Linked DNA regions of Homo sapiens: regions 1, 2 and 4 are each linked to region 3. Evidence: fine-mapped expression QTL. A gene starts in region 3. Each other region holds a variant in brackets. All regions are shown on one strand. Distances are from middle to middle. Region 1 overlaps PGM2 (phosphoglucomutase 2). Region 2 has its middle 39 kb from the start of PGM2. Region 3 holds the start of PGM2 (phosphoglucomutase 2). Region 4 overlaps PGM2 (phosphoglucomutase 2).

The links.
Region 1: its variant is fine-mapped to the expression of PGM2 in whole blood (INTERVAL, PIP 0.92).
Region 2: its variant is fine-mapped to the expression of PGM2 in monocytes after R848 (Quach 2016, PIP 0.95).
Region 4: its variant is fine-mapped to the expression of PGM2 in whole blood (INTERVAL, PIP above 0.99).

What each region holds. Positions count from the first base shown.
Region 1 is chr4:37,844,434-37,851,973 of GRCh38, reverse strand. It overlaps PGM2 (phosphoglucomutase 2), which reads right to left. Exons shown (of 14, transcript NM_018290.4): 7 at 7,421-7,540; 8 at 6,244-6,341; 9 at 4,863-5,043; 10 at 4,679-4,772; 11 at 3,323-3,452; 12 at 1,601-1,790. Among named protein-coding and RNA genes, the nearest start is that of PGM2, 22 kb to the right of the region's middle. The variant C/T (reference allele first, on the strand shown) is at 3,940.
Region 2 is chr4:37,784,221-37,791,760 of GRCh38, reverse strand. No RefSeq gene overlaps it. Among named protein-coding and RNA genes, the nearest start is that of PGM2, 39 kb to the left of the region's middle. RefSeq lists an enhancer at 3,919-4,418. The variant T/C (reference allele first, on the strand shown) is at 3,263.
Region 3 is chr4:37,823,754-37,831,293 of GRCh38, reverse strand. PGM2 (phosphoglucomutase 2) reads right to left here and starts at 4,608. Exons shown (of 14, transcript NM_018290.4): 1 at 4,481-4,608; 2 at 1,163-1,330. The coding sequence starts at 4,561. RefSeq lists enhancers at 3,936-4,435, 4,436-4,937, 5,970-6,139 and a silencer at 4,426-4,725.
Region 4 is chr4:37,852,959-37,860,498 of GRCh38, reverse strand. PGM2 (phosphoglucomutase 2) reads right to left here. Exons shown (of 14, transcript NM_018290.4): 13 at 4,758-4,891. Among named protein-coding and RNA genes, the nearest start is that of PGM2, 30 kb to the right of the region's middle. The variant T/G (reference allele first, on the strand shown) is at 5,343.

The sequences.
Region 1 (7,540 bases), 21 kb before region 3:
AAAGAAAACAAACAAACAAAAGGTACAGGAAATACAATTCTCTATACAAATTAGGGAAACCTAATCAAAATACACTACTTAGCTAGCAGGCAACAGCAGTTACTAGTCATAATAACAAAAGCACGGAATCTGATTTAACCAAAAGCTGTGGCATAAACGTACTGTGAGGATGGGGAGAAGAGAATTATTGAATGTAGAAAGCGTAAGAACTAAATCTTTATCTCAAAAATAGAAAGTCAACAAATTGTAAAACTGGTATATCAAAACATCACTATATGAGCACATGATTTACAAATCTAGTCTTGGTGACATGGCAATGAGGTGGCAGGGGTGGGACTGCCACGTTTCATCGTAAGCGTTTTCATACTATTTCTATTTTAAAAATATGCTGTGTGCAGATGAAAATGAAAAATAGAACAAAGAAAATATCAAAGAACGTGCCTAACATCTCATAAGGATATTCTTAACTTTCCTCCCCCAACCCCAACATAGAAAGCAACACTCTTCTGCTACCTTTGTGTCTTCTTTTGTCTCCAGTGAAAGATCTGCTTGGTGTAAAGAATGCAAACTCAGGCTTTACAGCCAACAGCTCCAATACACTCAGAGAACAGAGTACACTAACTAGAAAACAAACAGTGGTTCTCAAAGTGAGGACCAGTTGCATCAGTACCACCTGGGACCTTGTTAGAAATGAACATTTTTGGCTCCTACCCCAGACCTACTGAATCGGAAAGTCCAGGTGTGGGCTCCAGCACTCTGTTTCCCCAGCCTTCTTGGTTACTGATGCTCCTGCAAGTGTGAGAACTCCTGACAGGGAGAGAATGCTGGATCCTGAGATAGAAAACCCAGATTCTCCCTGGACCACCACCAACTAAGCTCTGTGTCCACAGACAGGTTCCACACTTCTGATCACTTATTGCCTAAGGTGCGAAATGACCACACAGGCTTTGATGACTAGTTCCTCTTTTTTTTTTTTTTTTTTTGAGATGAAGTCTTGCTCTGTCACCCAGGCTAGAGTGTAGTGGTGCAATCTCAGCTCACTGCAACTTCTGCCTCCTGGGTTCAAGCAGTTCTCCTGCTTCACGCTCCTGAGTAGCTGGGATTATAGGTATGAGCCACCACACCTGGCTAATTTTTGTATTTTTAGTAGAGATGGGGTTTCACCATGTTGGCCAGGCTGGTCTTGAACTCCTGACCTCAAGTGATCCACCTGCCTCGGCCTCCCAAAGTGCTGGGATTACAGGTGTGAGCCACCGCTCCCAGCCTAGTAGAGTCTCTTTCAGTTCTAGCCTGCGGTTTTTAACTTACCACGCCCAGCTAATTTTTGTATTTTTTAATAGAGACCGGGTTTTGCCGTGTTGGCCAGGCTGGTCTCGAACTCCTGATCTCAAGTGATTTGCCCACCTCAACCTCCCAAAGTGCTGGAATTATAGGCATGAGCCACCACATCCGGCTTCCATATATTTTTTATAGCTTATTTATAATCACGCCTAAGTGCCTAAAATCAGCTTCAATTAATTGTATGGTTAAATAATTTATTCAAATTATTTTAAAAGGTAAATAGAAAAGAGGTTAGTTGAAAAGAGAAGACATTACTTACAGCTTTTTTATCAGGTTGGCTATCATCATAGCCAGTTGTAAGGTCCCTAATGGCAGAAATTTCAAATTTGCCACAAGCTTTTGGATAATTATTTTTTCCATCGTAGTTTCTGAGGTTTTCAAATAATTTCTTAATGGTTTCTTGATCATGGCAGATAAAATAGGAAGCTTTAGTAATATGGTAGCCATACCTATCAAACAAATACAAATTCATGCACATGAGGAACAAATAATTTTGTAGGGTGGACACAGAACATGTACCAACCAGTGTATTCTAAAATAAATATGGCTGGGTGTGGTGGGTCACGCCTGTAATCCCAGCACTTTGTGAGGCCGAGGCGGGCAGATCACCTGAGGTCAGGAGTATGAGACCAACCTGGCCAACATTGAGAAACCTCGTCTTTACTAAAAATACAAAAATTAGCCGGGTATGGTGACAGGCACCTGTAGTCCCAGCTACTCCAGAGGGCTGCAGCAGGAGAATCGCTTGAACCCAGGAGGTGGAGGATTCAGTGAGCCAAGATTGTGCCATTGCACTCTAGCCTGGGCAACGAGAGACTCCATCTCAAAAAATAAAATAAAATAAAATAAATAATAAAATAAATGTAACAGCCAAAACTGACGCCAAAGGAATAATTTTTAAAAGACCATTAAAACAGAGGTCTAGGCCAGGCACAGTGGCTCACGCCTGTAATCCCAGCACTTTGGGAGGCCAAGGTGGGTGGATCACCTGAGGTTAGGCGTTTGAGACCAGCCTGGCCAATATGGTGAAACCCCTAACTCTACTAAAAGTACAAAAATCAGCCAGGTGTGGGGACACCTATAATCCCAGTTACCCGGGAGGCTGAGGTAGGAGAATTGCTTGAACCCAGGAGGCAGAGGTTGCAGTAAGCCGAGATCACACCACTGCACTCCAGCCTGGTGACAGAGCAAGACCCCGTCTCAAAAAAAAAAAAAAAAAAAAAAAAAAGAGGTCCAACAATCTACCCCAGGGATCACCAAATGACTGCCTGGTCTTCCGCCTGCATTTGCACAGAGAGCCAGGTCACACGCATTTCTGTATTCTCTTTGGATGCTTACGCACTACACTGGCAAGGCAGAGTTGAGTAAGTGCTACAAAAAAATGAATAGATGTATTATGAAGACATTCAATCTTTTTTGATACTGGACACTTAAAATCACATTCTTTCATGTTGTCATTTGTTAAGAATTAATGCGATCGGGAATAGTAATTACTAACTTGTTACATATCAAAAGGAAAAGGTGATCTCTTTAGTTTTTTTAAATTTTTTTTTTTTTTTTTTGAGACAGAGTTTAGCTCTTGTCACCCAGGCTGGAGTGCAATGGCGCGATCTCGGCTCACTGCAACCTCTGCCTCCCAGGTTCAAGCAATTCTCCTGCCTCAGCCTCCTGAGTAGCTGGGATTACAGGTGCCCACCACCATAACCAGCTAATTTTTGTATGTTTAGTGGAGACGGGGTTTCACCATGTTGGACAGGCTGGTCTCGAACTCCTGACCTCAGGTGATCCACCCGCCTCAGCCTCCCAAAGTGCTGGGATTACAGGCATGAGCCACTGTGCCCAGCCTTATTTAATTTTTATAAGAAATAGAATTCATCACCAAAATAAGAGCATTAGAAAGGATATTAGTATCTCATGCATAAGTATATAATAGAACATTTCAAAATATTATTTCAATCCAACAGAGTCAATAACAACTTACTCCACATAAATGGCCTTTAGTTGCTGAGACAAAGACAAATTCTTGGTTGCTAGGAAGCTAGCCAACTCTGCACTTATGACAGCGGCACTGACTCCATCTTTGTCCAGAACAAAAGGGCAGCACATGTATCCTGCAGAAACACACGTCATACATACATCTATACAATACTGTGTCAAACCACATATGAGTATGAATCCTGGCTATTGCATATTAGAGGTTGTACAGTGTTGCGTGTATGCACATTTCTCATTAATACCTTATGTTTAGGAATTTAGCCCAGTGCCTAGCCCATAGCAGGCCTTCAAGAAGTATTTGCTGAAGAACCTGCAAGATTTTCCCTCCTGGCCACATGGTGCTCAATCACTAGAGTCATGAAACTCCTTCCAGCTCATGAAATTGTTTCTAATTGTCCTAGTCAATACATATCTCTTTCTTCTCTGAATCCCAATAGTATTTGTTAGTTACATTATTCATTTTGACATCTGGCCTCTACTCTTGTGTGTGATTACTTAACTAAATCTATCTAAGCTGCTGTAGGCTAAGGTCAGTGCCATCCATTTCTTTTAGAGTCACTGAGTAATAGACATGCAATTAATACTTGATAAATGAAAGAAAAT[C/T]TTTCTTAAAATAAAAAGCTACGGAAAGACAAGTCTGCCAAATCTGACAATAAAAGAGCAGAACCTGAGCGATTATGCTTTGATTAGTTAAATCATGTGTTAGTGTTGCAGAGAATATACAAATGAATATAAATAAATCTAATGCATAATAGTTTTTACTAAATTAATAGCTAAAAGCGTTTGGTACAATGTGAGTTTCAAATTTCTATAGCTAGTTCTCCTTTCTGTTCATTTATATTGACAGTTTAGGACAAGGGTTTTTCTGTCATTCTGGCTGGACCTGGGTCATCCTTTTGGGTGAGTATCATTCTGATGACAGCAGCAAACCATGCCTTCCTTCTCCTTTCCTCTGGCTAGACCGTAGCATAGATCCTCATTAGCACTTTTGGAGGAGGAGGGACATTAAATACCACAGTGTTTAGGCCTGGATATTAACCACCACAGTGGAGGAAACATCACAACTCCCAAAATACATGTACCGGCAGCCAAGCATACAATGTCACTGTTTTGAGTCATCCAGGCAAAGGATTCTGACATGAATGACTTAGTTGTTTTTAAGACATTCCTTTTGGCTGTAAATCATCTGAGATGTCAATTTTGGAGTAGGACAGTTCGACATTCAACCTGAGTGCTGGAGAGGCAAAATAAACCGTGTTTCACTGTGGATCTTTGAATCCCAATCCAAACCTTTTCCTTTTGCCTTGCAGCCAATTCCTTAATGTTCATGATCACTTCTTACCAATAGCTTCTTCAAATGCAAATAAAACAGTTTTCCCCTGGTCTATTAGCTGTTTGGCTCTGTTTCCCATCCACTTAAAGCCAGTTAATGTTTCCTAAAGGGATAATCCAAAAGAGAAAGACATGCCTTAGATCTTCTACAGAGCAGATGAAAGGAAAATGAGTGAGTCCCAGAAACACCCTACCTCAAAATGAAAACCTTCCTTTAAGGCAATGGCCCGCAAGATTTTGGAGGAGACGGTGCTGGACAACATGTACGTGTCTTTGAGAGCACTGCGATCCTGGTTCTTCTCTTTCCAAGATGTAAAAAGCCACCAGCCCAGGAGGGCCCCCAACTCATTGCCTGAAAACACCCTCCATTCACCACTGAAAGAAAAAAAAAACAACAACCACCATTCATTTCCATAATCTTAAGGAAGACTCTAAAGTGTCATGGGGATAAAACAATTTAGCAAACAAAGCATCTAAGTATTTTCTGCAAGGCTGTTCTTGTTATTCATCATCTTTAAATAACTGGTCAGAAATGTAACTGCCATTTTACAAACATCTGAGCAGCTACCATATATATCAGCCAGTTTGCCTGAACAGACATCCTGTCTTTGAAGACTGTATAAAATAAGTATGTCACACATGACACACAATGGCTCTATATTAATCTTTGGCAAAGCCTTTGGTTTTAAATATAACAAATATGCTGGCAAGATCCCCCATATATAGAGTAAGTTTTGCTATCTCAATTTCTGGACTGGTCAGTATTGCTGATTCTGAGAGGGGACAGCTCAGTACCCCTTAAGATCAAGCTCAGTCCTAAATGGTCAGAACATCAGAGAAAAGATGTGTAATTTCTGCTTCTCTTGGCAGTCCAGATGGCTAGAAGTAAATCTCACCTATCAGGACGTATCATCTTAGCTTAACTTTCTCAACACTGATATAGAATGGAACCTGTTTTATCACAATCTGAAAACCCTACCATTTCAGCAGCAGCACCCTCCTGCCCCCAAAACATCACATAGGCTACCTGACGCCCAAAATTGCTTGGGCCCTGCCTACCTTTCAACTTTAGCCCCACGTACTTACTTCTCCTTTGTACAAACTCTCTGGTCAGACTTGTCTTAAACACTGTGCCGATACCCCACAGGAATTCCTCCCTGGTCTGTCCAAACTAAATTCAGCATCTCCTTGAAGGTACTGCTCCCTCCTAAACCCCTCAGCAAATACTGAAGCATACAGCTAGCACCAAAGTGCTTTACCCTCATTAGACACTGAGACATTACTTATAAAAAGATCAATTACAAAATGAGAAGTTCCCAAATAGGAGTTTCAATTTGAAATATATACTGGGTTGATTTACTCTGCATTATGCTTGCCAATCACGTAACCTCCCCCCACACTAGATCTCTATCTTGCTCTCCATTAGAAGACTCTACAGGAGGTTCAGTGAAATGATCATTTGCAAAATAAATGGGAAATGTTTCCAAATAGGTCCCGTCTCCCCAGAAACATTTTACCAATGAAGAGATCATCCTTTATATGTTCTATAATATAGGTAATCACAATTAATTTTACCTGTCTTGCTTTTCTGCCACAGCAAGTCTATCAGCATCCGGGTCGTTAGCTAAAACAATTCTGGCCTTGGTTTTGTCAGCCAAAGCAAAAGACAAAGTCTGAAGAAGAATATGAAAATAAAAGATTATTTAATCAAGAATCGAGCATATGATAGTCTTTAAAAACATTCAGTTCCTTAAGAACTCAAGAGGTCTTTCCCCTCTTAGAAAGATAATATAGGACCAACCAAGACAGCTCCAGAAGTGAAATTTAGCAAACAAAAGCTGCAGCTGGTCTTGGTTGGTCACATAGTATCTTCCTAAGTCAGAGGTCAGATAATGGGAGCATCGGTGTGTGACCCAAGCCTACCAGTGTGCCTGCTGCACATGCGCCAGTAGGTCTGTGGTTGGACTGGTATTTCGGGGCATTGCTGTGTGATCAGCCTCACAAATAAAACAAAATAAACTGATTCTCTGAATGCCACTGCTACCCCAACCTTTAAAAATGTTACAGAAACCATAATGTAAGCAACACTTCATATCAGAAAAATGACAAGAAATAAAAATCATAACCTGCTAAAGTTTCACTCTATTACTGCTTCTTTTTGGCATTAAGGAGACACGGCAAATTAAATTAAATTAAATTAACTGAATTTGAAGCACCATTTAGAGCTCAGTTCTCATATCCTGATCCTGGGGTGTTTAATTTGAAAGATCCTTTAAGAAATTAATGACTAACAAATATACATACTTCTTGTTTTTTTTTTTTTTTTTTTTGAGACAAAGTCTCGCTCTGTCACCCTGTCACCCAGGCTGGAGTGCAGTGGTGCAATCTCAGCTCACTGCAACCTCCATCTCTCAGGTTCAAACAATTCTAGCGCCTCAGCCTCCCAAGTGGCTGGGATTACAGGCATGTACCACCACACCCAGCTAATTTTTGTATTTTTAGTAGAGACAGGGTTTTGCCATGTTGGCCAGGCTGTTCTCGAACACCTGACCTCAAGTGATCTGCCTGCCTTGGTCTCCCAAAGTGCTGGGATTACAGACATGAGACGCTGCACCCAGCCAAACATACATATTTCCATGCTGAAATTAGTTTTTCTTCAGCACAATGAAAACACATAAAAATGTATTTTACTTGACAGTAATAGTTTTGAATATAAAAGCAGATTTCATAATTTAAAAAAAAATTAGGTTACCAAGACACCTTTCCCCTCTTCGGGATTCGGGTATTTCACTGTTGGAAACTCAGGATCCGGATCTTTCTGTTCAGGAACAGCCTCAGGAGGAACAAGGTCAAAAGCCTTGAAAGCTGACTG
Region 2 (7,540 bases), 40 kb after region 3:
TTTCTGAACTTTTATGCTCTGTTTCCCTTTCAAAACCGAATGCTGTTCACAGCACCCAAGTCACCTCTTGAATGCTTTGCTGCTAGAAATTTCTTCTATCAGATACCCTAAATCATCTCTCTCAAGTTCAAAGTTCCACAAATTGCTAGGGCAGGGGCAAAATGCCACCAGTCTCTTTGCTAAAACATAACAAGAGTCACCTTTGCTCCAGTTCCTAACAAGTTCCTTATTCCAGCTGAGACCACCTCAGCCTGGAATTCATTGTCCATATCATTATCAGCATTTTGGTCAAAGCCATTCAACCATTCAACAAGTCTCTAGGAAGTTCCAAACTTTCCCACATTTTCCCATCTTCTTCTCATCCCTCCAAACTGTTCCAACCTCTGTCTGTTACCCAGTTCCAAAGTTGCTTCCACATTTTTGGATATCTTTTTAGCAGTGCCCCACTCTGCTGGTACCAATTTGCTGTATTGGTCTATTTTGAAGCTGCTGATAAAGACCTACACGAGACTGGGTAATTTACAAAAGAAAGAGGTTTATTGGACTTACAGTTCCACTTGCCTAGGGAGGCCCCACAATCATGGCAGAACGTGAAAGGCACATCTCACATGGTGGCAGACAAGAGAAGAGAGAGCTTGTGTAGGGAAACTCCCTTTTTTAGTATCATCAGATCTCATGAGACTTATTCACTATTATGAGAACAGCACTGGAAGGACCCGCCCCCATGATTCAATAATCTCCCACCAGGTCCCTCCCACAACACATAGGAATTGTGGGAATTACAATTCAAGATGAGATTTGGGTGGGGAAACACACAAACCATATCACCCCCAAATCCCAGTGGGGCCCAGATACTTATATAGCCTTATTTCAGAGGCTGGGGGAGAGATGGGGAATATAGGTAATTCTGTTTAGGGGCAGTACATGATTACTAGGGAGAATGAATGGATGGGAGTGGAGATTAACTTGTAAATGGTTCTCTTTGAAAACAGAATGAGCCTGAGAGACAGTTATTATCTTGTGAAAGAGTCTGTTCAGGTGCGGTTACATTTGTGATCTTCTTTTCTGCAAAAGATAATGAGATAACAGGGAAGGAAAGGAAAAACCATTATTCTCCTTGGTGGGTCTGTCCTGTCTTTATGTAGCTAGAGAAAAAGTCTCTTCCAGCTTTTGCTGAGCTCTAAGGGACTTTAATTCATTCCTTACACCAAGGAGCCAAATTTTAAGGTGAAGTTCCCTGTACTCCCTCATTCATCAGGAAGTACATTCTCAATTATTCCTAGTAATCTCAATTATTGCTTGGTAGAGAACACACAGATTCATATTTCTGAGGAAGCCACTAACTGTCTTGAGCTTTTCCAAGCCAAGGTTGAGATGGTCTTGTCAGCCGACCTCTGCTGGCTGAACACACGAACTTTCTGAGCCCAGTGTGGTACAGATTCTCATGTTTTTACCTGGTATATGGCAGATGCACCTTACAACAATAATTTAAACATACCCTGAGAATGATTTTAGGGTCTAAGAAGCATGTGTGTTTGGAGTTCCAAGCTAAGGAATCCAGGAGTGGCCAACCCAGAGATTGAAGGGATTGAGGCCCTTTGTTTTGGGTTAAATGGAGGTTGCTGAGAGGAGGGTCCTAAGTGAAAATGCTGTATAAACTGCATGCTTTTTATAAACAGTAATGGTGCTACTGTCCAGCTTGCCACCACTGGGCCATTCCTGTATGGAGTTTCCCTGATAAACCCTATGTCTCATTCATTGTCTCCAGGTCTCTTATTTGCCCTCTAGGGTATGGTGCCATCCCTATCGGAGTCAATAGGGGCCTGGCATGACATCTGGTGAGCACTTCATGGCTGATCAAGCTCAGGGCAGGGTCTTAGGTGCAGCTGGTTGAGGCAGATGGCTTTTCTCTGGGGTTTAAGTATCATCTCAAAGTGGAGGTGCAAGATACTGGGAGCATGCTCAGTTGAATTGAAACCACCTTTGCAAAAATTATAACTGAGGAAATGACAGTGATAGAGATCAGACCTAACCAATTCCATCTTGCTTCTAATCTTTAAGCTGTCCTTGTTCATTCCTGGGCATAGGCTGAACTAACCTTGGGTAATAATTTAGTTTATGGTTTGACTCTGAAACAAAGTTGATAATAGCCCTTTCCCATAAAGACCCCTTTCTTGCCTGGGGACCAGTCTGCCTTTGCAGGACTAACAAATTAGCTGCAAGATTAGAAATTACAGTTTAGGGGTCATGCAGCCTCTGGCTGCAAGAGTCTGAACCTCCCCAAATTGCTCCCGGGGATAACATCACTATTGTAAAACCTAAGATCAGTGTTTGAGATATTTTGCAGACCTTGCACTCGATGGATCATCTGACATCACCCAGACCCGTAATCTGGGTCAACCAATTCTGTGATCCCACCCACGAACAGAAGACAGCAAGAAAACCTCATTTTGAACCCCCCTATAATTTCATCTCTAACCTGACCAATCAGCACTCCCTACTTCCTGAGCCCCTACCCACCAATTTATCTTTAAAAACTCTGATCCCCAAATGCTCAGGGAGACTAATTTGAGTAATAATAAAACTCCTCTGGTCTCCCGCACAGCCGGCTCTGTGTGAATTACTCTTTCTTCATTGCAGTTTCCCTGTCTTGATAAATCAGCTCTGCCTAGGCAGCTGGCAAGGTGAACCCATTGGGCAGTTACAGAATAAGCCCCACAGTAACGACCTTCCTTGGCTGGAGAGAGAAGTCCAATATTTCAGCCTTTAATAGACAGCATGCTGCACTCCAACAGAGTCAACACTGTCATCGATTCTCACTGCTATGCAGAATTAACTTATCAATAGTGGCAGTGTTGTCCTGTTTTCAATCTCTAGGACTTTAAGCACTGGTATCCTTTTTAGAAATGCTTTATATTTTATGTTGGAAAGTAGAAGATATTTTTATCTGAACCACCTGGCATCAGAATTCTCTTTAGGGAGAGAGCTGACTTCATTGGGGGAAAAAAAAGGTAAATATTTGAAATGGAGGAAGAGATGTCTAAGTTACATTTAAGTTAAAAAAGATCCATCATGATCACAAATGCTCTGTAGAAAACAAGGAGATAATTCCGCTTCGCTCTTCGGAGGAGATGGGGAAATGAAAGAGAGAAAAATGAAGAGAGCATAGAGAGAGTAGGTGTATTAGTCCATTTTCACGTGACTGATAAAGACATACCCGAGACTGGACAATTTACAAAAGAAAGAGGTAAAATTGGACTTA[T/C]AGTTCCACGTGGCTGGGGAAGCCTCACATTCATGGCGGACAGCAAGGAGAAGCAAGTCACATCTTACGTGGATGATGGCAGGCAAAGAGAAAAGCTTGTGCAGGCGACAAGCTCTTTTTAAAGCCATCAGATTTCATGAAACTTATTCACTGTCACAAGAACAGCATGGGAAACACTTTCCCTCATGATTCAGTCACCTCCCACCAGGTCCCTCCCATAACATGTGGGAATTCAAGATGAGATTTGTGTGGGCACACAGCCAAACCCTGAATTTGGGTTTCAGCCCCTGGCCCCTCCCAAATCTCACATCCTCACATTTCAAAACAAATCATGCCTTCCCAACAGTCCCCCAAAGTCTTAACTCATTTCAACATTAACTCAAAAGTCCACAGTCCAAAGACTCATTTGAGACAAGGCAAGTCACTTCCTCCTATAAGCCTGTAAAATCAAAAGTAGGTTAGTTGCTTCCTAGATACAATGTGGGTACAGGCATTGGGTAAATACAGCCATTCCAAATGGGACAATTTGGCCAAAACAAAGGGGCTACAGGCCCCATGCAAGTCCGAAATCCAGCAGGGCAGTTAAATCTTAAAGATCCAAAATGATCTCCTTTGACTCCATGTCTCACATCCATGTCATGCTGATACAAGAGCGGGGTTCCCATGGTCTTGGGCAGTTCCACCCCTGTGGCTTCGCAGGGTACAGCCTCCCTCCCAGCTGCCTTCACAGGCTGGCATTGTCTGTGGCTTTTCCAGGTGCATGGTGCAAGCTGTCAGTGGACCTATCATTCTGGAGGATGTTGGTCCTCTTCTCACAGCTCCACGAGGTGGTGCCCCAGAAAGGACTCTGTGTGGGGACTCCAACCCCACTTTTCCCTTCTGCACTGCCCTAAGCAGAGGTTCTCCATGACAGCCCTGACCCAGCAGCAAACTACTGCCTGGACACCCAGGGGTTTCCATACATCCTCTGAAATCTAGGCAGAGGTTCCCAAACCCCAGTTCTTGACTTCTGTGCACTCGCAGGCTGAACACCATGTGGAAGCTGCCAAACTGCCATGTGGAAGCTTCAGAGGGTGTAAGCCTCTGAAGCCATGGCCCAAGCTCTATGGTGGCCCCTTTCAGCCATGGCTGGAGCGGCTGGGACGCAGGGCACCAAGTCCCTAGGCTGCACACAGCAGGCGGACCCTGCACCTGGCCCACAAAACCACTTTTTCCTCCTAGGCTTCTGGGCCTATGATGGGAGGGGCTGCCATGAAGACCTCTGACATGCCCTGGAGACATTTTCCCCATTGTCTTATGGATTAACATTCAGCTCCTCATTACTTATGCAAATTTTTGCAGCAGGCTTGAATTTCCTCTCAGAAAATGGGATTTTATTTTCTGTTGCATTGTCAGGCTGCAAATTTCTGAACTTTTATGCTCTGTTTCCCTTTTAAAACTCAATGCCTTTAACAACACCCAAGTCATATCTTGAATGCTTTGCTGCTTAGAAATTTCTTCCACCAGATACCCTAAATCATCTCTCTCAATTTCAAAGTTCCAGAAATCTCTAGGGCAAGGGCAAAATGCCCAGTCTCTGCTAAAACATAACAAGAGTCGCCTTTGCTCCATTTCTTAACAAGTCCCTCATCTCTATGTGAGACCAACTCAGCCTGGACCTTATTGTCCATGCCGCTATCAGGCTTTTGGTTAAAGCCATTCAACAAGTCTCAATGAAGTTCCAAACTTTCCCACATTTTCCTATCTTCTTCTGAGCCCTCCAAACTGTTCCAACCTCTGCCTGTTACCCAGTTCCAAAGTCACTTTCACATTTTTGGGTATCTTTTCAGCAGTGCCCCAGTCTATTGGTACCAATTTACTGTATTAGTCCATTTTCATGCTGCTGATAAAGACATACCTGAGACTGGGCAATTTACAAAAGAAAGAGGTTTATTGGACTTACAGTTCCATGTGGCTAAGGAAGCCTCACAATCATGGTGGAAGGCAAGGAGGAGCAAGTCACATCTTACAAGGATGGCAGCAGGCAAAGAGAGGAGCTTGTGAAAGGGAATTTCCCTTTTTGAAACCATCAGATCTCATGAGACTTATTCACGGTCATGAGAACATCATGGGAAAGATTTGCCCCCATGATTCAATTGCCTCCCACCGGGATCCTCTCACAACATGTGGGAATTCAAGATAAGATTTGGGTGGGGACACAGCCAAACCATATTAGTAGGGGATAAGCAAGATGGTGAAAAGTTGCATAATTTTCACCTTCCCTGGGACCTCCAAAATATCACAACAAAGAGTTCTTTGTTTGTTAGGAACATATTAGGCTGCAAATAATAGAATACTAGACTCATGGTCGCTTACATCAATGGGAGTTTATTTAAAATCAGAGCTATGTAGCAGTTGGCATGGATTCAGCTGTTCAACGATGCCATCAGGGACCCAGACACTGTCTATATTTCCACTTTACCATCCTTGTTCTGTTGGCTTTTGTGCTCATGCTTGCCACATTATGGTCTTAGGGTAGTTGCTATGGGCTCACACATTACGTTTATATTTCAAGGCAGGGAGAAGGAAAATGAGGAAAAAGGTACCAACAATGGCCATGTTCTTCTTTAAGAATTAACTAACTTAAAGATAGTTAGTTCTTTCCCAGAAATATCCTCACCAAGTTTCTACTTGCATCACGTGGCCTCCCTGAATATAAGGGATGAAAGGAAATAATTTAGCTTTTATATCTTCTATAATAGATGCAGGCAAGGGAGAAGGCATGGTGCTGGATCAACCAAGCCTATAATATCTGCCATATTTATGGAATTCATAAATGTGGGCTGTGTAGGAGCTAGTTTGGGAAATCAAAGAGAGTGATGAGTTTTCCACTGGGAGTTTGTCTGGTGTGAACAGATGCAGCTCTTGAGAAAGAAAGAGGTCACAGAGGAGAAGAATCCAGGGAAATGCAGCCCTTGAGAATGGACAGAATCCAGGTGAGAGCTTTTGGCTTCCACAGACTGCAGATTGGAAGGATGGGATGTGTCACAACACTGAGATTTCATGGTTGATGTCCAGCTTCTACTGATCTTTAGTTAATCACCAACCCCTGCTAATTCTTCCTCTCCTACAGTCTTCAAATTTGACACTTTCACGCAGTCCTTTCTTTAACATCACTACTAGTGAAGCAGGATATTTCCCTGACCCCTTCGAGGGACTTGTGACAGGTGTGCTTCATTTACTCAGCCTACCACTCTCAACTCTTCATGAGAGGGAGCACATGATCAAACGAGTGTGGCAACTGGAGTAGATGAGTGCTGGAATCAGCTCCTTTGGCACTGGTGGGATCACACTCCACTCACTCAGACCTGCTGCATTCCAGCCCTTGTAGGAGGGAGCAGACAGGTGAGAAGGTGCAGGAACTGGCTGGATGCTTTAGCGCCAGCAGGAGCAAACTCCATGCAGGCCCCACAGCAGCATCCAGGCAGGGGTGTCTGCAACCCCCAAAGCCCCAGAGGGAGTGTTACAGAGCTCTTTTAGCTCTGCCATCTTTGGATGGCTTAAGTGTTAACAGCTCAGTTAACAGCTCAGGCCCTTTGCCTTTTCATGTGAGGCAGCTGCCCTCCACCTGTGAAAGCAAAGGGACAGTGTGACAGCCTTTTGAATCCACGCTTGTGTCTCCCAAGCTCTTATCTGGCATCCGGGAAAAATGAAGTTGCATGAACGAATTGAAGGATGGTAAATGCAGGGGGATTTTATTGCCAATGAAAGTGACTCTTAGCAGGAAGGAGGGCTGAAAAGAGGATAGTGAGGGAAGGTAATCTTCCCCTGAGGTCCAGCTGTCTCTGGCCAGATTCTTCTCTGAAGTTACACCAACAAGTTGTCTCTCTGAAGACAAGCCACTTCTCTCCAACATCTAGCCATAGTTCCTGCCTACTGGCTGGAACTTTTATAGGCACAGGATGGGGTGGGGTGGGGCCATGGGTAGTTTAGAAAAAGGCAACATTTGAGTGGGAAAACAGGGATAAAACAGGGATAAAAATTCTCATTTTGGGCCACAGTTGCAGACTTTTTGGCTTGAGGATGGGGTTTCACTGGGGACCTGCCTGTTTGCCTAGAATTTCTCTGCCCCCGTCCCTATCACTAATGTCTCCCTTGCCATTCCTGAAATTTCCATAGATGTCTTGTCTGTCTGCCTTCAGTTTTTCTCCTTCTAGTCCATCCTCATTTCGCTTGTTTTTGTCTAGCAATTGCCCTGTACTTTAAAGGCTGCAAAATCACTTTCATGGGGAAAGAGTA
Region 3 (7,540 bases):
ATTCTAAGTCTTTCCTCCAGCATCTCAGGGAGCCCTATTGCTTAATAACAATTTGTGACCAGGAGTTCCCATGGCAATTCTTTTTTTTTTTTTTTTTTTTTGAGACAGAGTCTTGCTCTGTTGCCCAGGCTGGAGTCCAGTGGCACAATGTCGGCTCACTACGACCTTGCCTTCCGGGTTCAAACAATCCTTCTGTCTCAGCCTCCCAAGAAGCTGGAATTACAGGTGCACACCACCACGCCTGGCTAATTTTTGTATTTTTGGTAGAGACAGGGTTTCACCATGTTGCTCAGGCTGGTCATGAACTCCTAGGCTCAAGTGATCTGCCTGGCTCAGCCTCCCAAAGTGCTGGGATTACAGGTGTGAGCCATCGCGCCTGGCCCCTGTGGTAATTCTATACCCTTAGATAAGCTTTCCTTGTTGGAGTTTTGTTACAACATGCCCAGCTCTGCCTTTTACACTGGGATGTATACGTGAGGCACATGTAATCACTATTAGGCAATTTTTTCTAGCCTTTCTTTTCCCACAATTAAAGTGACATTCATCATCAACAGGTCTAAGGTGAAGAAATACTGATGTGAATAATCTGTTCTATTTCATTTCCCTCATAAACAGTACTGCCAATACCCAGTAGAAGCACTTCTGTTTTGTCAAATTATCTCCTTCCTAAAAGCTGGGTCTAGATTCTGACAAAAATATTCACAAATTAAGACAGACTCAATCCATACTATAAAACAAAGGAGAACAGGCTCTTGGTAACTCCGGCAGTTAGAAAAGCTTTTTAGCACTTGCTATGTAATCATGGCAAAAATTACAGGACCTTAAAAGTTGTCAGCTTAGTTGGTGCATTTATACTGGAATGAAAGCTCCATGAGAGAATCTGTTTGTTCGAGTCATTCTTATATCCCCAGTGCTGGCACATGGTATGTACTCAATAAGTGTGTTAAATGAATGAATGAATGGATGGATGGCTATATGAGTCCTGAATAAGTGCTACTTCGACCTATTGTGCAAGCCTTACTTTATGGAGTAAATGGTGGTGACTTCCTGTGTCTAGCCAAGCTGGTAAGACATGTCTATAATTAGAATAAATTAGGTCTGCCAAATAGAAAATGAGCTAGGGGATACATTGAGTTACTAAGAATTATAAAAAACATGGTACCTGTGTAGTCTGGATGATGGTCAAGTCATTCATACGAGAAATTCCAGGTCCCATAGCAGCTCGGAGGCCAGCTGTCCCAAACTCCATTCGGGCCCCAAAACATTTTCGTAGTTCTTCTTTATTACCTTCTGCTATTAGTCGTTTCACTGCCTCCAAAGTTAAGGAATTCTGAAAAACAAAAATGTATAGACACAGCCAGACAAGTGAATGAAAAATCAGAAATGTAAAAAAATTCACAATCATTCTAATCTATAGAAAATATATATATATGTATATATATATATGTAGACCTTTCAATTTTCTGATGCTTTTGAAATCTGAAATATGAAGTCAGTTTGACATTATAATGTAAGTGTTCTTTTCTTTCCTGTCAAGGTAAGCACCTTTGGAGAAATCAAAGTAGAGATTTTAGCATATGAGTCTAACCCCCAGAATGGAATCCCAGAATACCACTTGCCAACTCTAGGTGCTTGCGCAGATTATTCCAGTTCTCAAATTCTGTTTCCCTATTTGCAAAATGGGAATAATCTAGAACCTCCCTTACACGATTTTTAAGGTTTTAAGGTGGTTTACTTCAAATTAATGTAAAATATCTTTCTCTACCTGGCATTTAGTTGTGATTAAATGTCCATTTTTTTCCCTAATGCCCTCAAATTTTCCAGAGTGATAGATTACACAACTTAAGTCAAAACCTTACTTTTGTAATGTTTTATAATTCATACCAGGCATTCACATACCTGGTCAAGTTTGAATATTGTAACATCTCCAAGAAGTAGACAAATAACAGAAACCCAATTTTATAGATGGGGAAGCCTCAGAGATTGGGTGACTTGCTTAAATTGCAAGATAAACATTAATCTAGTGCCTTTTCTATAACATTAACTGCTTCAAATAGACGCTAACATGATTCATTTAAGTTCATTATACATTGCCCTATTTTTTTTTTGTATGGTAGTTGCAGAAAATGTTATGGTTGGAGAAAAATAATGACAATCACATTAGTTTCATATGAGACTTTTAAGTTATGAATTCAGGAAAACAACAGAGGAAGGACTTTATATTCCTGTTTTACAGTCATTATCCATTTAGATGAGCACTCACGCAGGACGTGGCCATTTAATTAAACTTTGAAATACTACTGCAATAAAACCTTGGCTTTCTGGAATTAAGCCCACATTTCCAGATTGTGGCAGATTCAATGGGAATCAAGTAAACCCCATCTTTTTTGGTGAAAAACAGCAGATGCTAATTACAGAACACAGTCTTACCTATCAGATTGTCAGGTGCCCCAAAGAAAGGCTCAGATCAGGTACATAAAAGAGGCTCATAAAAGAGCCTCAATAAATATTAGTGGAGTGAATCAGAAAACATGGACTTCACTGCCACACTCAATATCGAGTGATCCTCCCTTGTTCATAGTGTAGGTCTGGAAAATCTTAATTGGTCTTTGATATCTATGAAAGACTAAGTAGCCTGAGAGAAACAAAGGAGACAGACAGGTAAGAATGACAAGTCAAGAGTACAGCAGGATCAGAATCAGCCCTGGCAGTGAGCAAAACTGACAGCAGAGAAAAGAGCAGGGATGAAGGCACGGTGGAAAGACAGAGGGCACCTGCCAGGGCGCCTTGCCAGTCGCCGGGGGTAGTCTGACTAGAGGGCTGCAATGCTTTTAGCTGGTGGGAGGTTCACTGGAGAATGAATGGGCTTCTTCTCAGGTGCCAGTCTCAAAGCAAAGAAGAAATTAACAGAGGATAGAACATGAGAAGTGATTAAAAAAAAAAAAGGACATCTCATCTCTACCCAGAGAAATACAATTTTTCTATACACAGATGCAACACTGTGTAGAAATTAGATTGTTTTCTTCTTCTTCTTAGAGAAAGTGCATTATGAACTCTGACTTCAAAAGAATTCTGTACTCTGCAAGCTACAAGTTATCAGAAATGGAAACATTTTTCTTCCCTTGTGAATCACAAGGTTATCTTCCCAGGAAAAGAAAAACGCCCCCAAGGAGTTGCCAATAGCATCCTGGAAATGGGATTTGCTGACATTTTATTTGTAGGGGCCAGAGAATGGTAAATAAAGACAAAGACCTGACCCCTACTGACCTTGTAATCTTCTTTGTTCATTCAAGTATTTCAGTGACCTACTATGTGTCATGCACTATGCCTATGCCAGGCACTACAAACCAAGGTAGTGAGAATAGAGAGGCCTGGCCACATAATTTATGGAGGTCCAGTGCACAATGAAAGTGGGTGACCTCTTGTTTTACCAGTAAGACTTTCAAGACAGGACAGCAGGACATTAAAACAACAGTGGGCCCTTCAAGGAGCGCGAGTCCTGTGAGACTGCAGGGGTCTCTCGCCCCTGAAGTCGGCCCTGGAGACAGACATTAAACAAACCTACAAACAAGTGTTTTTGGAGTTTTTTGTTTTTACCATTTGTAGTAAGAGCTATAAAGGAAAATAACAGACTGTTTAGAGTGAATATTAGGGATAAATAATTTAACGCTTCGGAGCCAAGGAAGGACTGACTCTCTACGTAAGCCACATTTAAGTTCAGGCACAAAATATGAGTCACAACGGGAGAAACAAGTTCAGCAGGAGAGCAGCGAGGGACATTCCGAGAAAACCTAACAGCAAGCAGAACAGGTCGAAAGGGCGAGACGCAAGTTTATAGAGAGGAGAGGGAGTGATGTCCAGAGCTGGGTTCCTGATTCTAAGAAACGGAATGAAGAGAGAGAAAACCGTGCTGTGTCCCAGGTGTGCCTCCCTGGCAGTCAAAGTTCTAAGGGGGACTCCTGAAGCCAGGCGGGCCCACCCGGGAGGACAACCCACGTTTGTAACCAAGCCCTCGGGATGGGAGGACCGGACCAGAACGCTGCTCTGCAAAGGTCTCAGCGGCCAAAGGAATACGCGGGACGGAGCGATTCTGGGTCCATGGGGATGCACAGCCGACTACCGACGACGAGCCAGCGGTCTGAGTGACAGTAAGGCGTGCGCCCCTCAACTAGACAGCGTCCAGGGTCTGGCCGCGCTTACACCACCCTGGCTCGCTCCTCTACTCCGAACTTGCAGTCCGGCCGGCCGGATGGCTGGTTTCGTCCGGGGACAAGCCTTCCCGGCCTAACTCTGAACGTGCCGCATGCCGGCCAGGTCGAAGGAAGCCTAGCAGCGGCCGTACGCTCCTGGGTCTTCCCGGGGGAGAAGCGGGATGCACTGGGCGGGAAGGCAGCTCAGGCAGAGCAAGCAGCGCCGCGCCTGGAGAGGGCAGAGCACCCGGCCCCGCTCCAGGCGCTCCCCGCCTGCTGGTGCCCCTCACCTTGTCCCAGCGCAGCCACTGGGCGGTCTCCTGGTCCAGCCGGGCGTCCTCGCCTAGACCGCTGCCTTCTGGAGCCGCCATCGCTGAGCTTGTGCTACCGCTGCAGAGGGAAGCAGGCGGTGAGATCTGCCTTCCGGCCCGGCCCCAAGACGTGGAGGCGGAGGCGGGGGCGGGGAGAGCCGCGGCGGAGCCAGTCGGTCCGGGGGAAAGTGACGCGCGCCGCGGCGGGCACGCCTCCTTGCCGTTTGCGGGTGCGCTGCAGGGGGTGGGAGTGAGCGAGGAGGAATTGCGGGGCTAGGGTGGGTTGCTGGAACCTGGCACGTGTGAGAAGGGTTTGCCATCGTCTCTGATGCATCCAGGCTACAGCCAGCCGTGAGTTCCTGCTGCGCGCCAGGCACATGTCAGATGCTGGGATACCAGGAAGTGCACCCAGATAGGGGCCTGAAGACTATGTAGAAACTCAGAGGGTCAAGAACAGCCAGAAAAAAATCTTGAAAAAGAAAAGCAAAGTAGGAAGACCAGTGGAACATAAGATAGAGACCAGAAACAAAAATACACGTGTATGGACAATTTATTTCAGAGGCGGGGCTGCAGAGCACAGGAAGGAACTATTTTTGGTTAATGGTGCTCGGTCAAAGGGATATCCACGTAGGGAAAAGAAAAAAGGGAACTTGGCCCCCTACCTCCCATCACACACAGCTCTGAACTCCAGATCAATTGTATCTCTAAGTGCGAAAGGTAGTGTAGCAGGAGGAGCCGCAGACAAAACTCCTCAGACACCGGATTAAAGAAGGAAGAGGTTTTTATTCGGCCGGGAGCGTCGGCAGACTCGCGTCTTAAGAGCCGAGCTCCCTGAAAAAGAAATTCCTAGCCATTTTAAGGGCTTACAACGCTAAGGGGTCTGTCTACGTGAAAGGGTCATGATAGATCAAGTAAGCGTGAGGAACGTGACTGGGGGCTACATACATCAGCTAACAGAACAAGAAGTTTTACAGTGCTTTCTCATACGATGTCTGGAATTTACGGATAACGCCAGTAGTTTTGGTCAGGGGTTAATATTATTATTATTATTTTAACCACCAGGGCCAGGTGGTGGCGCCAAGGTCGTCTAGCTATTTATCTTACTTCTGTTTTTTTCCAACTTTTTGCTTTCTCTCTTTTCTCCTGTCTTATAAACTAGGGAAAAGGGGAGGTGGGGGAGAAGCTGGGAAGGACAGCAGAAATGGTGGTCTCTTTCCATAGTAGCGTGAAACTTAGGGAAACTAACATAGGAGCACATCTTCCTGACGCTGGTATCACCAAGCCATAAAGAAGATGCATACCCATAAGCATAAAAAAGCACGGGCAAGAATATTTCTAGCAGCATTATTTGTAAAAGCCTCAAACTGGAAACAACCCAGATGACCATCGACAATACAATGGATAAATACTTGGTAGTATATCCATACCAATTCATATAAATAAATCATGGCACATTGATAGAGCAATGCAGGTGAACTACTGTTATACACAACATCATGAATGAATCTCACAAACACTGAGTGACAGAGTTCAAACACCCACCCCCATACCCCGTCACCCCAAAATACTGCATCATTCATCTGTAGTCCCAGCTATTTCGTGGTGGGGGAGCTGGAGGGAGTCCTGAGGAGGGAGGATCGCTTGAGCCTGGGAGGTCGAGGCTGCAGTGAGCCCTGATTGTGCCACTGTTCTCCAGCCTGGGAGACAGAGGGAGACCCTGAAAAAAAAAAAAAAAAAAACACTGAAATATATAAAATTATAGGTAAAGGAAACAAATCAGTGATTTTCAAGAGCTGGGGGTTGGGGGAGGGGTTGACTACCTAGGGCACAAGGGAATTTGAGGGAGTTGTGGAACTGTTCCGTATCTTGATTGAGTTTGGGGTTTACTTTTATCAAAACTTATAGAACTGTACGATATAAAGGGTAAAATTCACTGTATGTAAGTTATATCTCTTTTTTTTAAGTTTTAAGATTAAAAACTAAAAAGGAGGCAAAACTAACCTATGGATGTCAGCAGAGTGGTAGCTTTGGGAAGGAGGGAAAGTGCCTTCTGGGGTTCCGGGACTGTTCTGTTTCTTGACCTGGACGATGGTCAACAGGTGTGTTGACTTTGTAATATTCACTAAGCTGCAATCTTATGAGTTGTGCATTTTCCGTATGTTCTTCAACTTTATTTTATTATTATTTTTTGAGACACAGTGTCGCTCTGTCACCCAGGCTGGAGTGCAGTGGTGTGATCTCGGCTCACTGTAACCTCTGCCTCCTGGGTTCAAGAGATTCTCATGCCTCAGCCTCCTGAGTAGCTGGGATTACAGGGGCGTGCCACCATGCCCGGCTTATTTATTTATTTATTTATTTGAGACACAGTCTTGCTCTGTCACCCAGGCTGGAGTGCAATGGTGGGATCTCAGCTCACTGCAACCTCCATCTCCTGGGTTCAAGTGATTATCCTGCCTCAGCCTCCTGAGTAGCTGGGATTATATGTGTGAGCCACCAGGCCCAGACTTTTTTTTTTTTTTTTTGTATTTTTAGTAGAGAACGGATTTCGCCATGTTGGCCAGGCTGGTCATGAACTCCTGACCTCAAGTGATCTGCCCACTTCAGCCTCCCAAAGTGTTGGGATTACAGGGATGAGCCACCGCGCCCGGCTAGTGTGTTCTTCAATTTTAAAAAGAAAAAATATATATCCAGGATCTGTAATATCTGTTTAGTGTCATGGGAAAGGCATACTAATCATGTAATCACGGCAGTTAATACGTAATTACAAACTGATAAAATGCTGGAAGGAAAGCAGAGAGATGTCATGAGGCTGCAGGTTAACAGAGGCCACCTCAGTCAGGAAGCTTGCCTGAGCACTGGAAGCTTAAGAGAGATGTGAGGGAAGGATGTAGTTAATGTGAGAGTGTGGTCCTTCCCCTGACTGCAAAACCTGAGAGGCTGGAGCACAGAGAAGAAGAGAAGGACAGTCTGCCTCAGTTTCCCCAAATGTTAGGTGGTCTGCAGGTCCACCACACTCAGGCTATCTCTTTTCTCTGCACC
Region 4 (7,540 bases), 29 kb before region 3:
GGGCAAGTGGCTTGGCCTCTCTAAGGCCCAGATTCCTCATTTGTAAAATTGGGATAAAGACTTTATCTTCTCAAGAGAGTTTCTGTACAGATTGCGATAAATTATATAAAGCAATTAGCACTGAACCTGGCCCAAAGACCTCAATAAATGTAGCTATCATTATAATTATTTTTATCCCTACTGGCAACATATAAAGTAATTATGCTTTTTAAGTACATATGAATTATATCAGTTTTCTTTTCCTTCTCCATAAATGTGCTTTGAAGAAAATAACAGTTCTCAGGAAGGCATGTAAGCTAATCATTTTTTAAAGTATACTTAAAACTAAAACTTGGTGAATTTACTGATTACTAATTTATTATTCAAATTTATTTCTTAATCATGACATGAGTGAACATTACGATTCATGTATGCAGTGATATGTTTTTGATATTGCATTTTATGTGTGAAAAAGAAATCAGTACCACCGTGTAAGGTTTAGTGGTACAATTCTTAAAACAAAAATTTTGTGTTACTATTCTCCATCCTAATCGATAACTGTTCCATTTGTTAAATTAATGCTTGAGAATATTTCATAACATCTTTAAAAATAACAGGACACATCCTATAATCATTTAAGCCAGGGTTAGGAATTCCTGTTTCTGAAAAGAATCTAGATGGATCTCTTTATCAGAATGTTTAGGAAAGTATCATTTTTCTCTAATCATCATGAAAAAACATTTAAGCTAAACGACAAGTAAATACAATGCAGTGTTCTTGATTTGATTATAAATTGGGGAGAAAACAGCTATTTTGGGGACTTTTGGGGATTTAGGTGTCAATTTGGCTAGGATAGTGTCTCCAGTTATTCAAACACTAATGTTGTGATGCTGTGAAGGTATCCTGTAGGTGTGATTAATATCTATCATCAGTTGATTTTAAGTAAAGGAGATTATCCTAGACAATGTGGATGGGCTAGATTCTATCTGAAAGGCATCAGGAATGGAACTGAGGTTTTCCTGAAGAATTCCACCTGTAGACTGTAACTTTAACCCATGCCCAAGAATTCCAGGCTCCCTTTCTGGACAGCCTGCCCTGCAGATTTCAGACTTGCCGAGCTGGCCCCTACAATCAATTGCACAGGTTGATTCCTTGCAAACAATCTCTTAATAGGTACATTCTACTGCTTCTGTTGGTCCACTGGAAACCTGCCTAGTACCATTATTATCTATTTGCCTTAATATTAAGAGAGTGTTCTTAAGAGATGCATACTGAAATATCAGGAGTGAAGCATCATGAAGTCTTATGATGTGTCATGAAGTATCACAGAGTGTTTCAAATGGTACAGAAAAATCTCAAATACATAACATATATGGTGAGAGAGCAAATATTGCAAAATGTTAGCAATTGCTCAGTCTGGATTGGGGTCAACAAACTGTGGTTCATGTAGTTTTACTGGAACACAGCCCTGCCCATTCCTTTATACATATGGCTGCTTTCTTACTACATTAGCAGAGCTGAGTAGTGGTGACAGAAATCACATGTCTGCAAATCCTAAAATATTTACTATCTGGCTCTTTACATACAAAGTTTGGTCTAAGTGAAGGGTGTGTGGGTATTCACTGCATTCTTATTCCAACATTTCTGTAGGTTTGAAACTGTTCAAAATAAAAAAGTTGGACAAAACTAAGGACATCTCCCCTGACAAAAATATATTTTTAAAGCAGCACATACTTGAAAAGGATTTTCCATTTTAGTTGATTAGAAGGCCATGAAATTCTATGAATAATTGAAATTTATGACATAAAGCATATTAATAATATTTAAGCTTTTCAGGAAAGAAGGAAATCTTAGTGAAGACATTATTGCTAGCCTGGTGCAGTGGCTCACGCCTGTAATCCCAACACTTTGGGAGGCTGAGGCTGGCAGATCACTTGAGGCCAGGAGTTCGAGCCCAGCCTGACCGACATGATGAAACCTTGTCTCTACTAAAAAAAAAAAAAAAACACCAAAAAATTAGCTGGGTGTGGTGGTGCATATCTGTAATCTCAGCTACTCAGGAGGCTGAGGCACAAGAATCGCTTGAACCCAGGAGGCAGAGGTTGCAGTGAGCTAAGATTCCACCATTGCACTCCAGCCTGGGCAACAGAGAGAGATGTCTTAAAAAAAAAACAAAAAACAAAACAAAAAAAACTTTATTGCTGTTGTACGTTAGGTATGCTGGTGCCTTGCTTAAGCCGTGACCACATATCCATCTACTGACATAGCGCTTAATGTCCCATTTAATAAATGGAAGCAATGTTTCAATGCATATAATAAAAGGACAAATTTTCAAGGTTTTTTTCACTAATTTATAAGCTAATATTTGAATTTAAGTCCACTCAATAAGCCATGTGAAAAATGTTAATACCATAAAGCCTTAAACATTTAAATAGTGTTATCATTACAAAGGAAAGCTTTCCGAAGTATAAGATATATTTTCATCAGATAATGAAAAGGAAAGGACAAGATACAGAAAAAACAGATCCTTAAGTTGGACTGTTTAGTTGGACTGTCCATTTCTTTTTAAAAGAATGAAACATAGAAATAAGAAAACACTAAATAAGCAAGAATTATAAAGAAATGTTTACAAAAAACTATATGCAATATAGCAGCAAAGAGCTTACTATCTAATGCACACGAAAACAAGATTCTTGCATAATATTACAATAAAATATTGGTAATCCAGAATTCTTAGAAAATGAGCTTTTATATGTTCACTTAATAGTTGAGTTTTTGCACTTTAAGCACAAAAAGGTTTTGAATGGGAATCCATAGTGAAAATATATTACATAGTCCCATGACTTCTTAAATATCTCTTTATTGAACATCTTGACATTTGAGAGCCATAAGCATGACTGTGTTGGAGTGGAGCTGTATTCTGGGCTCACTTGGGTGTAGAATGCTATTTCCCTCATGATAAACTCATGGAGTGGTGAGCTTTCTAAGTCCTTGTGTCCACGTTTTATAGTTTTGTTTTGTTTTAATATTTCCTTTCTTGCTATCAGCAGTCACTTCTCCTTGCCTAAGAAAAGTTTGTTATACTTCCCCATTCCTCTAATTTGCTACATTTAATCTGCTACTAGCTTGGCAATTTAAGATGCTCAGGAATTTTCATCTGCTTTTATTTGCACAAGTTTGATTCACGAGGCTGGAAAAACTCTTCTATGAGCAAAGCTTTGGTTTGTCTATGTTGTCACAATTACCTAGATGGGTGCTGTTTACTACAGCGGCCATTAGACACATGTGGCTACTAAGAACTTGAAATGTGGCAAGCGCCACTGAGAAACTAAATTTTTAATTTTATGAAGTTCAGTTAATTGAGTTCAAGTTTTAAAACTGATACTTGATTCAGTTATTAGAAAACAAGTATGTTTGGAATAATCTGGGTATTAAAATCTACTTTGTCTAATCTAAATTTTATTAACTCTACAGATCAAGTATTTCTGATAAAAATGGAGCATTCAAATTGAGATATGCCGTAAGTGTAAAATTACTGAATCAATTTTGAGGACTTTTTTCCAGAGGAAAAAAAAAGAATGTAAAACATCTCATTAATAATATTTATACTGATTATATGTTGTAATAATTTTTGGATATACTAGGTTAAGTAAAATACATTATTGAAATTAATTTCACCTGTTTCTTTTTACGCTTTTAAAAGGTGACAAGTAGAAAATCAAAATTGCATCTGTGGATTGCATTTTAGTTCTGTCAGACAGCACTGACTTAATTCACCTTTCACAAAAACTTTTCCTGATTTTCAACTGTATTCTGAATAGGGAAATGCTGGTTAACGGCATGTTGGATAGGCATGCAGTATCACACTTACACACACTAAGGACAGCACTGAGCTTGTTAAGGTGCAAAATGTTAAGTTGTTACAGAGTGACCAACTCAAACACTTTTTTGAGGTCACAGAAACTTGAACCTGAAGCTACCAGCCCATCAGTTCTTTGGCAGCAAGGACTCTCTCTGATGAGGCTCTCTGTGCCCCCTCCAGAACCCAGCACAGACCTGTCTACAATGGGTACTCAAAGATATTTCTTGAATGCATGTGGAATGGATTATAATTTATTTATTTATTTATTTTTTTGAGATGGAGTCTCGCTCTGTCGCCCAGGCTGGAGTGCAGTGGCGCAGTCTCGGCTCACTGCAAGCTCCGCCTACCAGGTTCACACCATTCTCCTGCCTCAGCCTCCCGAGTAGCTGGGACTACAGGCGCCCGCCACCACGCCCGGCTAATTTTTTGTGTTTTTAGTAGAGACGGGGTTTCACCGTGTTAGCCAGGATGGTCTCAATCTCCTGACCTCGTGATCCGCCTGCCTCGGCCTCCCAAAGTGCTGGGATTACAGGTGTAAGCCACCGCACCCGGCCCGGATTATAATTTATTTTATCAGAGACATGGGAAGACTGAAGTTTGAGAAAAAGAGAAAATCTCATTGGTGTTAGCTACCAATGAAAAGTGTTTAGAAAAAGGCACTTTTACTACTATACTGAAATAAGGATAAAATTTTCCCATACAAAGAAATTTAGGACAAAAGTAAGAAAGTAAAAAGTAAGCTTTTCCCTGGATGCTGAGACTGACTGTTAATACCAAAATATTAGTGCAGGTTCTGAAACAGCATTTCTAATTAAATTACCTATTAGAAAGATGGAACATTTCACTTGGCATTTGAATAGAACCAGTTAGGAAGTCTGGGGAGTAAAAATCACACCAGCTGCCATCCACATCATACCTGTTCCCAGGTGGGGCACACAGCTCTGCATAGTACTTGATTTTGGGCTCTGTCCCACTGGTGCGCATGGTGGCCACGCCTCCATTAGCAAAGGTGAAGGTGATCATTTGGCTGCTTTTACTAGTGGGAAGAACCTAGGAATTAATGCACACATTATAAATTTAAATAGTAACATTCTGGCCTAACCAATATCTTCTCTTGCATAAGTAAGAAAATAAATGCCAAACAAATCTATTGGTTAGAAAAGAAAAACATTCTGGAGGAAATCAGAAAATGTACTCCACATGAATGAAATACTAAACGATAGTAATTTATGAATATGTGGTCTACTATATGGAATACTATTCAGCCTTAAAAGAGAAGGAAATCCTGTCATTTGCAACAATATGGAAGAACCTGGAAGACATTATGTTGAGTGAAATAAGCCAGGCATAGAAAGACAAATACCGCATGATCTCACCTACATGTGGAATCCGAAAAGGTTGAACTCACAGAGGCAGAGAGCAGAATAGTGGTTACCAGGGGCTGACTGGGGAAGGGTGGGGATAAGGGAGGGGAGTTTGGGGAGATGCTTGTCAAAGGGCC[T/G]AAAGTTTCAGCTAGACAGAAGAGAAGTTCAAGAGATCTATTGTACAATACGGTGACTATAGTTAATAATGATGCATTGTATACTTGAAAATTGCTAAGAGAGTAGATTTTAAGTGTTCTCACTACAAATACATGATCAATATGTGAGGTAACACATTCTAATTAACTTGATTTTAGCTATCACAATGTATACATTTTAAAACATCGGATTGTACATCATAAATGTATACAATTTTTATTTGTGAATTAACATAACTAAATTAATTTTAAATAAAGAAAATTAAGTAACTTTGTGTATTAGCTTTTACTTCCCTAGTTCTATTGAAGTTATTAAAGTTTTATTTAAACACATCATTTCACAAGATATTGACTTAAACAGATTAATACACCACAAAAAAAAACCTCAAACTAGATTATATTTACTGTTATAAAGTGAATCTTTGCAAAGAAAATTCCATAAGGAGTTTTTTTTGTTTTTTTTTTTTAAATAAAGCTTCCAGGCTGGGCGCGGTGGCTCATGCCTGTAATACCAGCACTTTGCACTTTGGGAGGCCGAGGAGGGCGGATCACATGAGGCCAGGAGTTGGAGACAAGCCTGGCCAACATGGCAAAACCCCGTCTCTACTAAAAATACAAAAATTAGCCAGGCATGGTGGCGGGTGCCTGTAATCTCAGCTACTCAGGAAGCTGATGCAGGAGAGTCACTTGAACCCGGGAGGTGGAGGTTGCAGTGAGCCGAGATTGCGCCACTGCACTCCAGCCTGGGTAACAGAGTGAAACTATGCCTCCAAAAAAGAAAAGAAAAAGAGAAAAAAAAGGAAGCTTCTGTAAGAAAAAATAAATGCCATATAAATTTACTGGTTAGAAAAGAAAAATGGTCTTGAGGAAATGGTATATTTATATTTGATAGGTCCCAAAACTCCATTAAAATAGAGGTACTTTGAATAGCATAAACACACGGGCAAAGAGACAAAGAGGAGGTAGCAGCTGATGGGGCTGCCAACCGATCGCACAAGTCAGAAAACAGATGGAGGCACAGAACTGGTCTGGTGGGACCCAGAGAATGAAATCTGAGTGCCTGCGGAAGGAGACATGGATGAGAACTGAGGCAAGGTGCTCTGCAAAATCCTGGCCAAGCTCAAGAACCAGAGGCACCAGGTACTGCAAAAGGCAGATGTGAGGCAGGGGTGGAAAGCAGGAACAGGGTTTGAAAGAAGTTCTTAGACCATCCCGGTTCCTTGCCCTGAGCCCACACCGTCACAGAACCACCTCTTCTCCATTTCTGCAGGAGATGGTTTAAATTCTCTGGAGATTAAATCAGAAACATTCAGGAGTTGGGGAACCTGGGCAGGGCATGATGAAAACAGAGGGATCAAGTAGAAGTCCTCAGGCTGACACCCCCAGCTCCGCCCCAGTCATGCCTCCAGGGCCTTGGCATCTCATCTTATCATCCTTGGGTAGGTGATTAAGGTCTCATTAAATCAGGGGGATCCCCTTATAAAGTTAACTTGCTACCAATATCCTCTGAGTGAAGTATGTCATTTGATCTGCATATGTACACAGAGCTTCCAATCAGTTCTTAGGTGCCCAAAGGAAAATTAAGGATCATCAGACTTTTGGGGAAAGACATCATGTAAAAGACAAAGTCCAAAACAAACAGAATAAAAAGAACTTGGTGGAAATAAAGAGAATGTAGCAGAAAAAGAAGACATATATTTTTAAAAAACTATAATTAGGTCTATAATCCTTAGAGAGGTAAGATATTGTTTACATTAAAAAAAAAAAAAAAAAAAAAAAGGAATATCACCCTGGGCAACACAGCAAGATCCTGTCTCTACTAAACTAAAAAACCTTAGCTGGGCATGGCGGCACACACCTGTAGTCCCAGCTACTCAGGAGGCTGAAGCAGGAGGATTGCTTGAGCCCAGGAGATCAAGGCTGCAGTGAGCTATGATCATGTCACTGCACTCCAGCTTGGGTGAAAGAGCAAGACACTGTTTCAACAGGACACTATTTTTAATAAATTAGTTATAACTGAAACAGCCAACAGAGGCACTGAAAGCTAAAGCTAAGGAAATCTCCCAGAAAAACAGAAGAAGAAAGAAAGAAACAAGAAAAGTAGAACATCAGTCTTGGAAAGCCAGCATCTAAGAGCTCTTCAAGAAACAAAGAACTGAAAATGCAGGGGAGGTGATTAT